Linked DNA regions of Homo sapiens. The protein of the gene in region 1 binds, or shares a complex with, the protein of each later gene. Each region holds a gene or a part of one and is shown in the gene's direction. Other genes may lie near its edges.

Region 1 (3,823 bases):
AACTACCAATTAAATTATGACATATCAGTAACTATAAGATGTATCTAGCTGTCAGAGATGTCAAAATTTGCAAAATTACGTATCTTAAAATCAGTAAAATATGGTAGTAGAAGAAAATATTCAAGCTATTCTTCACTAATCAAAACTATACCTTCTGGAAGAATTCAAGGCCAGGACTGTAAAAGCAGATTAAATGAACAAATACTAGGCAATTATTCAGTAATAACTAAGTTTTCATATACTTTTTAACTTGTTTCTACAATGGTACATAAAATTATTTAGGTTAGCACACCCCACCATGCACGACTAATTTTTGTATTTTTCGTAGGGACAGGGTTTCACCTTATTGGTCAGGCTGGTCTTGAACTCCTGACCTCAGGTGATCCACCCGCCTGGCCTCCCAAAATGCTGAGATTATAGGCGTGAACCACTGCACCTGGCCAGGACATACTTTAAATTCTTAAAAATTGTAACCATTTCTCATTTGTCACAAGATCTAAGAGAATGCTATACAGTGTAATGAAGTTCTGAATTTTCTTTCAGATGTTTACAGGTTTTTCTTTTATGCCTTTAATATGTTATTAAAGTTTAAATGTAAAAAGGTGGGGGTTTTTTTGGTGCTACCCATCCCCCTTCTCCAGCCACTAGGAAGAAAGCTGTGTGTGTGTTCCTGGAGTGGCTTACACACAGCTTGTAGCATCCAGGGTGGGCAAAAATAAGCCTGTTTTCCAAATACTGGGTATTTGTGCTCTGATCACTGATTGCTGCTTCTAATCATAGAGGTGAAAAGAGATGGCAGCCATTGTTGTTATAGCTCCCCTCATTGCAAAAATGGGTAAAGGCATTTAATAGACACTTCTTCAAAGATATTAAAATGGCCAATAAGCACATCAAAAGATGCTCAGCATCACTAATCATTAGGGAAATGCAAATCAAATCTATAACACGATACCACCTCATGCCTCTTAGGATGACAATTATCAAAGAAACAAAACAACAACTGTGGGCGAGAATGTGGAGAAATGGGAACCCTTTTGCAGTGTTGGTGGGAATGTAAAATTGTACAATCGTTGTGGAAAATGGTGTGGTGTTTCCTCAAATAGTTAAAAATATAATGATCATATGATCTGGCAATTTCACTTCTGGGTATATACTCAAAAGGACTGAAAGCAGGGTCTCAGAGATACTTGTATATCCATGTTTTTAGCAGCATTATTCACAATAACTGAGATGTGGAAGCAACCAAAGTGTCCATCAGTAGATGAATGGATAAGCAAAATGTGGCATATACATACAGTGGATATCATTCAGTCTTAAAAAGGAAGGACATTCTGGCACATGCTGCAGTGTAGATGAACCTTGAGGACATTATGCTGTGTGAAACAAACCAATCACAAGAAAACAAACACTGTGTGATTCCACTTATCTGAGATACTTAGGGTAGTGAAAATCACAGATACAGAACGTAGAATGGTGGTTGTCAGCACTTGGCGGGGAGGGTGGAATTGGGAGTTGTTTAACGGATATAGAGTTTCGGTTTTGCCCTGTGAAAAGTGTTCTGAAAGTGGATGGTGGTGGTGATTGTACCATATAAATGTACTTAATACCACTGAACTATACTGTTAAAAATTGTTCAGATAGTAAATGTTATGTATATTTTACCACAATAATAATTTTGGGGGAAAACTATTGAGGCCATTCATAAATACTGTGTTTGTATATGTCCTGGCAACAAATTTATTCCATTCCATACAAATGTCTCATTATGTGTTGTGCTGTGATTTAGCTGGCTATATTAGTTTGCTAATGATGCTGTAACACAAACTGGATGGCTTAAACAACAGAAATGTATTCTAGTTCTAGAGGCTGGAAATCTGAAATCCAGGTGTTGATAGGATTGGTTCCTTTTGAAGGCTGTGAGGGAGAGAGTATTTTATGCCTCTCCCCTAGCTTCTGTTAGCCACAGGCCTTCCTTGGCTTGTAGATGACGTTCTCCCTGTGTCTTCATGCATCTTCCCTCTCTACACGTCTGTCTCTGTGTCCAAGTTTCCCCTTTGTGTAAGGACACCAGTCATATTGGATTAGTGTTCAACTTAATGACCTCATGATCACTGTTTGCACATAAGGTCACATTCACAAGTACTGGGACTTCCAACATCTTTTGGGAGGATACGATGAAATCTGTAACACTGGCCGATAATTTTATAAACATTTATGTTATTTCCAGTTTTTCTGTGTTTAAGTTAGCCTTGTGGGGCATATTCTTGTATATATATCCTTTGTGTTTTTGTGATTAGAAGTAGATTTGCGAGGTCAGAGGATACACACAATTTTGCTGTACATTATGAAAGTAACCTCCAGAAAGTATATGCCCATTTATAGTCCCACTGTCAATGTACAAGTACGCACCCGTTTTCGACACAGTAAATAACACATTGGTTTTTAAAATCTTTTGAGTCTTTGTCAGTCTTTTTTATTGTTTTTGTTTGTTTGAGATAGGGTTTCACCCTGTCACCCAGGCTGGAGTGCAATGGCACAGTAATGGCTCACTGCAGCCACTACCTCCCAGGCACAAGTGATCCTCCCACCTCAACCTCCCAAGTAGCTGGGACCACAGGCACGTGCCATCACACCCAGCTAATTTTTTTATTTTTATTTTTTTGTAAAAATGAGGTCTCACTATGTTGCCCAGACTTCTGTTTGTTTATTGCAGTAAAAACAGTGAAAATTTACCATCTTAACCAGTTCCAAGTGTACAGTTCAGTGGTGTTAAGTATGTTCACGTATTTGAATATAGATTCACAGATGGCCAGAACTCTTCTCAGCTTGCAGATCTGAAACTCTATCCCTATTAAATAACTCTCCATTCTCCCCTCCCCACAGCTCTAGGCAGTCACCATTCTACTTTCTGTGTCTATGAATTTGACTACTCTAAATACTTCATATATGTAGAACCATACAGTATTTGTCTTTTTGGGACTGGCTTATTTCACTTAGCATAAGTGTCCTCAAGGGTTATCCACATTGCAGTATGTGATAGGATTTCCTTTATTTTTAAGACTGAATAATATTCTATTGTATGTGTTTATGCTACATTTTGTATTTATTAGAGAGGATTTGGAAAGATTAGAAAAAGATAAGAATGTAGGAGAGGTACTTTGGAACCAAAAGCTTGGGGGTTTCATTCTCTCCATCTCAGATAGTGCTTTTTTTGAGACCCAGTTTCATTCTTGTTGCCCGGGCTGGAGTGCAATGGTGCAGTCTTGGCTCACTGCAGCCTCCGCCTCTCGGGTTCAAAGATTCTCCTGCCTCACCCTCCCGAGTAGCTGGGATTACAGGCATGTGCCACCACACCCAGCTAATTTTGTATTTTTAGTAGAGACGGGGTTTCACCCTGTCAGCCAAACTGGTCTCGAACTCCTGACCTCAGGTGATCCACCCGCCTCGGCCTCCCAAAGTGCTGGAATTACAGGCGTGAGCCACCGCACCCAGCCTCAGATAGTGCTTATGCCTACTATAGCTGAGCTTATTTGTTTTGTTTATTTTCTGAGTTTTCTATTAATATTACGTCTCTGTTCCTCAGAATGGTTTTCCTTTGCCTTCCCAGCAATACCTTCCAACTGTTAGACTGGTCTTCTTGTGAAAGACTGTCTTCTAGGATTTCCGGGGATTGATGTATCTTTTCAAGGTGGAAATAGAACAGTCGCCTTGAAAGAATTTCCGTTAGGGAACCCGGATAGTTGGCATTTTGCATGTTTTGTTATTTTGTTGTGCAGTAGGTGCTCTCTGTGTTTGTGGAGTATACCACATAGTTTTGTTACCA
Region 2 (3,823 bases), on another chromosome or scaffold:
AAACCCCGTCTCTACTAAAAATACAAAAAAATTAGCCGGGCATAGTGGCAGGCGCCTGTAGTCCCAACTACTTGGGAGGCTGAGGCAGGAGAATGGCATGAACCCAGGAGGCGGAGCTTGCAGTAAGCCGAAATTGTGCCACTGCACTCCACAGCCTGGGTGACAAAGTGAGACTCCATCTCAAAAAAAAAAAACAAAACAAAACAAGGAGGAGTGTGTGAAGGAAACTTTTTGGCCCATGCCTAGCTATGGCTCTTATCTCTTCTGATCACTTTCCCCTGGAGAGAACTTGTCACATGACCATACCCGCCTGCAAGAGAGCCTGGGAAGTACAACTGGACAGGCATTGCCTAGCTGCCGTGGAGGAAAGAAGAGTATGGCATTCGGACAGCTAGCATCTCCGCCACAGCAGGCCTAGCACACTGCCTGGTGCGTTGCAGACGCTTCACAAACCTTAGCTGTTCATTACCATCATTGAGTGTTAATCATTTCTCTTCTGTGTTCCTTTTTCTTCACATCAGTACGAAAATAAAAGGGATTTCTAGAATGATCAAAGCAATTTGGGATTGGTATGGGAAGGCTTCCCACGGTAGGTGGGATGGGAAAGATAAAAGGATATTTCTGGTGTTTGAAGACTGTCAGTGTAGGTCAGAAAGGAGCAGGAAAGTGGAACAGCTATTTTTCCTTCCACTCATTTTTGTGGTCTTCTAGGAAAATATTATTTCCCCTATGGAGGATTCTCCTATTCCTGACATGTCTGGGAAAGAATCAGGGGCTGACGGGGCAAGCACCTCCCCTCGCAATCAGAACAAGCCCTTCAGGTGAGTGGTGTCCTATCCACAACCCACAGTCTGGCCCCCGCTTCTGTTGGCTTCTCTCCATCTCAACCTGGGGAAGTCCTCATCAGTAAGAGGCTGGGGGCAGTTAGGTGAAGCCTAATAGCAGTCTCAAGTGTGAGTGATGACCCAGCGTGTCTGCATGCACAGACTGAGTGCAGGGTTGTTCAGCACAGAACTGTTCATACCATAAATAACCCAAATGTCCTGCTGAAGGGGAATGGTTGGCTAAATTGGCATAACTCCATATGATGAAATAACTTGGGGCTATTAATCATATAGCTGCAAGTATAGAGAAATATAGTTAAATGACATGAAAAGATGTAAATTATAGAGTGACAAGTGGAGAAAATATTAGTTGTAGCCCAGTATGGATGGTATAATACTATTTTTACTTAAAATATATTTCTTTTTTTCTTTTTCTTTTTTTTTTTTTGAGATGGAGTCTCGCTCTTGTCGTTTAGGTTGGAGCGCAATGGCGCAATCTTGGCTCACTGCAACCTCCGCCTCCCAGGTTCAAGCGATTCTCCTGCCTCAGCCACCAAGTAGCTGTGATTACAGGCGCCTGCCACCATGTATGGCTCATTTTTGTATTTTTAGTAGAGACGGGGTTTCACCATCTTGGCCGGGCTGGTCTTGAACTCCTGACCTCAGGTGATCCTCCCACCTCGGCCTTCCAAAGTGCTGGGATTACAGGTGTGAGCCACCATGCCTGGCTTACTTACAATATATTTAAATATGTGCACATAAGGGAAAAAACCTGGACTAATATGTAGCAAAAGATTAGGAATAATATATAACAAAATCTGGAATATATATAATAATATATAACAAAATAATAGTAATTCTCTCTGGGTTGTTGGCATTATGGGTTTTTCCATATTTTTTGAATAGTAGATACATACGTTGCTTGTTTTAAAAACCAGACCAGATGTGTCTGTCCCTCCCTTTGTATCTGGATAGATACAGAGGGGGTGCCCAAAGGGAAAGGCAGGTTTTCACTGACCTTGGGAAGCCCTGGGAACCTCCAAGGTGGGCCCTTCTCCAAGCTGGCTCTTGAGTCTGACGGGCCTGCCTCCCGCTGCAGTGTGCCGCATACTAAGTCCCTGGAGAGCCGCATCAAGGAGGAGCTAATTGCCCAGGGCCTTTTGGAGTCTGAGGACCGCCCCGCAGAGGACTCCGAGGATGAGGTCCTTGCTGAGCTTCGCAAACGGCAGGCTGAGCTGAAGGCACTTAGTGCCCACAACCGCACCAAGAAGCACGACCTGCTGAGGTGAGCGTTAGCAGGATGCACAGTCCCGGGGGTGGCCTTGGAGGCTGTGGCCACGGCTAGTCACCTTTCAGGGGTTTTACAACAGGCTTTCCAATCCTGGCTGGCCTCTAAATCACCTGGAGAGCCTCGAAAAAAACAGCAGTGGCCAGTCCACCGGGTATGTCCCAAACAAATTCTGATTCCACAGAGTGGGGCTCAGGCATCTGTGACTGACCGATTGATTTGATTTGTTTTTGTTTTGTTTTTTTTTGAGAGGGAGTCTCGCACTGTCACCCAGGCTGGAGTGCAGTGGCATGATCTCGGCTCACTGCAAGCTCCGCCTCCCAGGTTCATGCCATTCTCCTGCCTCAGCCTCCTGAGTAGCTGATACTACAGGCACCCACCACCACGCCCAGCTAATTTTTTTGTATTTTTAGTAGAGACGGGGTTTCACCGTGTTAGCCAGGATGGTCTCGATCTCCTGACCTCGTGATCCACCCGCCTCGGCCTCCCAAAGTGCCGGGATTACAGGCGTGAGCCACTGCGCCTGGCCTAGTTTGGTTTTTTAATTATGGTAAAGGCATAATATAAAATGTATCTCCATGGGAGGCTGAGGCAGGAGAATCAGTTGAACCTGGGAGGCGGAGGTTGCAGTGAGCTGAGACTGCACCATTGCATTCCAGCCTGGGCAACAAGAGTGAAACTGCATCTCAAAAAAAAAAAGAAAAAAAATTTACGCTTCTTAACCATTTTTAAGTGTACAGTTTAGTAGTGTTACCCATATTCACATTGTTGTGTGATTTATTTTTTGTCTTTTCATGCTTCTTTTCTTTTTATCCCCAAAGTTTTGTTATTAAAAATTTGATACACACAGAAAATCTGAAAGAATCATACAATAAACATCAGTATATTCTCCACCTAGACTAATTAACTGTTAACATTTTGTTGGAGATCTGTGATTTTTATTTGCTCATCACAAGAAATTGACCAGTGTTTTAGGACATGTTCTTTTGGGAATCCATCACAGTGCCTGCCATTCATTTGATGTCAACTCCCATCCATCTTGTTCTGCATTGATCACGAGGGTATAGGTGACATCTTGAGGAAGACTGTGGAATAGCTACCCTTTAGGTAAAGAGATAGGGAAGCAACCCGAACAAGTCTCTTTGCTTCTCACAGACAAGTGCTGTGTCTTAACTTCATAGAGCCCTGACAGGACAGGGCACATTCATTCATTTGGCCTTTTTTTTTTTTTTTTGAGACGGTGTCTCACTCTGTTGCCCAGGCTGGAGTGCAGTGCCATGATCTCGGCTCACTGCAACCTCCGCCTCCCGGGTTCAGGCAGTTCTCCTGCCTCAGCCTCCTGAGTAGTTGGGATTACAGGCATGCACTACCATGCCAGGCTAATCATTTGGCCATTCTTACTGTCTCTTAGATATTGTGCTGGGGGCCAGCAAGAGAGGCAGAGCAAGGGACTTGCAGATTACTAGCAGATGATCAGTAAAGATAAGTGCCATTAAAAGGAGAGGTAGTTGCTGACAAGCTGCCAGGGTATTTAAGGATAAGAGTGACTAATGTATGCTGAGGGCCTACTGTGTGTCAGGGGCTTTATGTACACTCTCTCAAGTGTCTTGACAACAACCCAGGAGGGAGGAGCTATTTTCGTTGTTTACCAGATGAGGAAATAAAGGCCCAGTGAAGCGAAATGCTCTGCTGAAGGTCACACAGTCAATAA

Evidence for each region.
Region 2: KAT14 (region 1) and TADA3 share a complex: the UniProt entries of both Homo sapiens proteins name them as parts of the ADA2A-containing complex.

The regions. Positions count from the first base shown.
Region 1 is NC_000020.11:18,154,742-18,158,564, forward strand, and holds part of KAT14 (cysteine-rich protein 2-binding protein), read left to right. Parts: intron 1-3,823. UniProt on the Homo sapiens protein: Component of the ATAC complex, a complex with histone acetyltransferase activity on histones H3 and H4. May function as a scaffold for the ATAC complex to promote ATAC complex stability. Has also weak histone acetyltransferase activity toward histone H4.
Region 2 is NC_000003.12:9,782,314-9,786,136, reverse strand, and holds part of TADA3 (transcriptional adapter 3), read left to right. Parts: intron 1-711; coding exon 712-821; intron 822-1,923; coding exon 1,924-2,109; coding exon of another isoform or gene 2,110-2,113; exon of another isoform or gene 2,114-3,011; intron 3,012-3,028; exon of another isoform or gene 3,029-3,125; coding exon of another isoform or gene 3,126-3,156; exon of another isoform or gene 3,157-3,823. UniProt on the Homo sapiens protein: Functions as a component of the PCAF complex. The PCAF complex is capable of efficiently acetylating histones in a nucleosomal context. The PCAF complex could be considered as the human version of the yeast SAGA complex.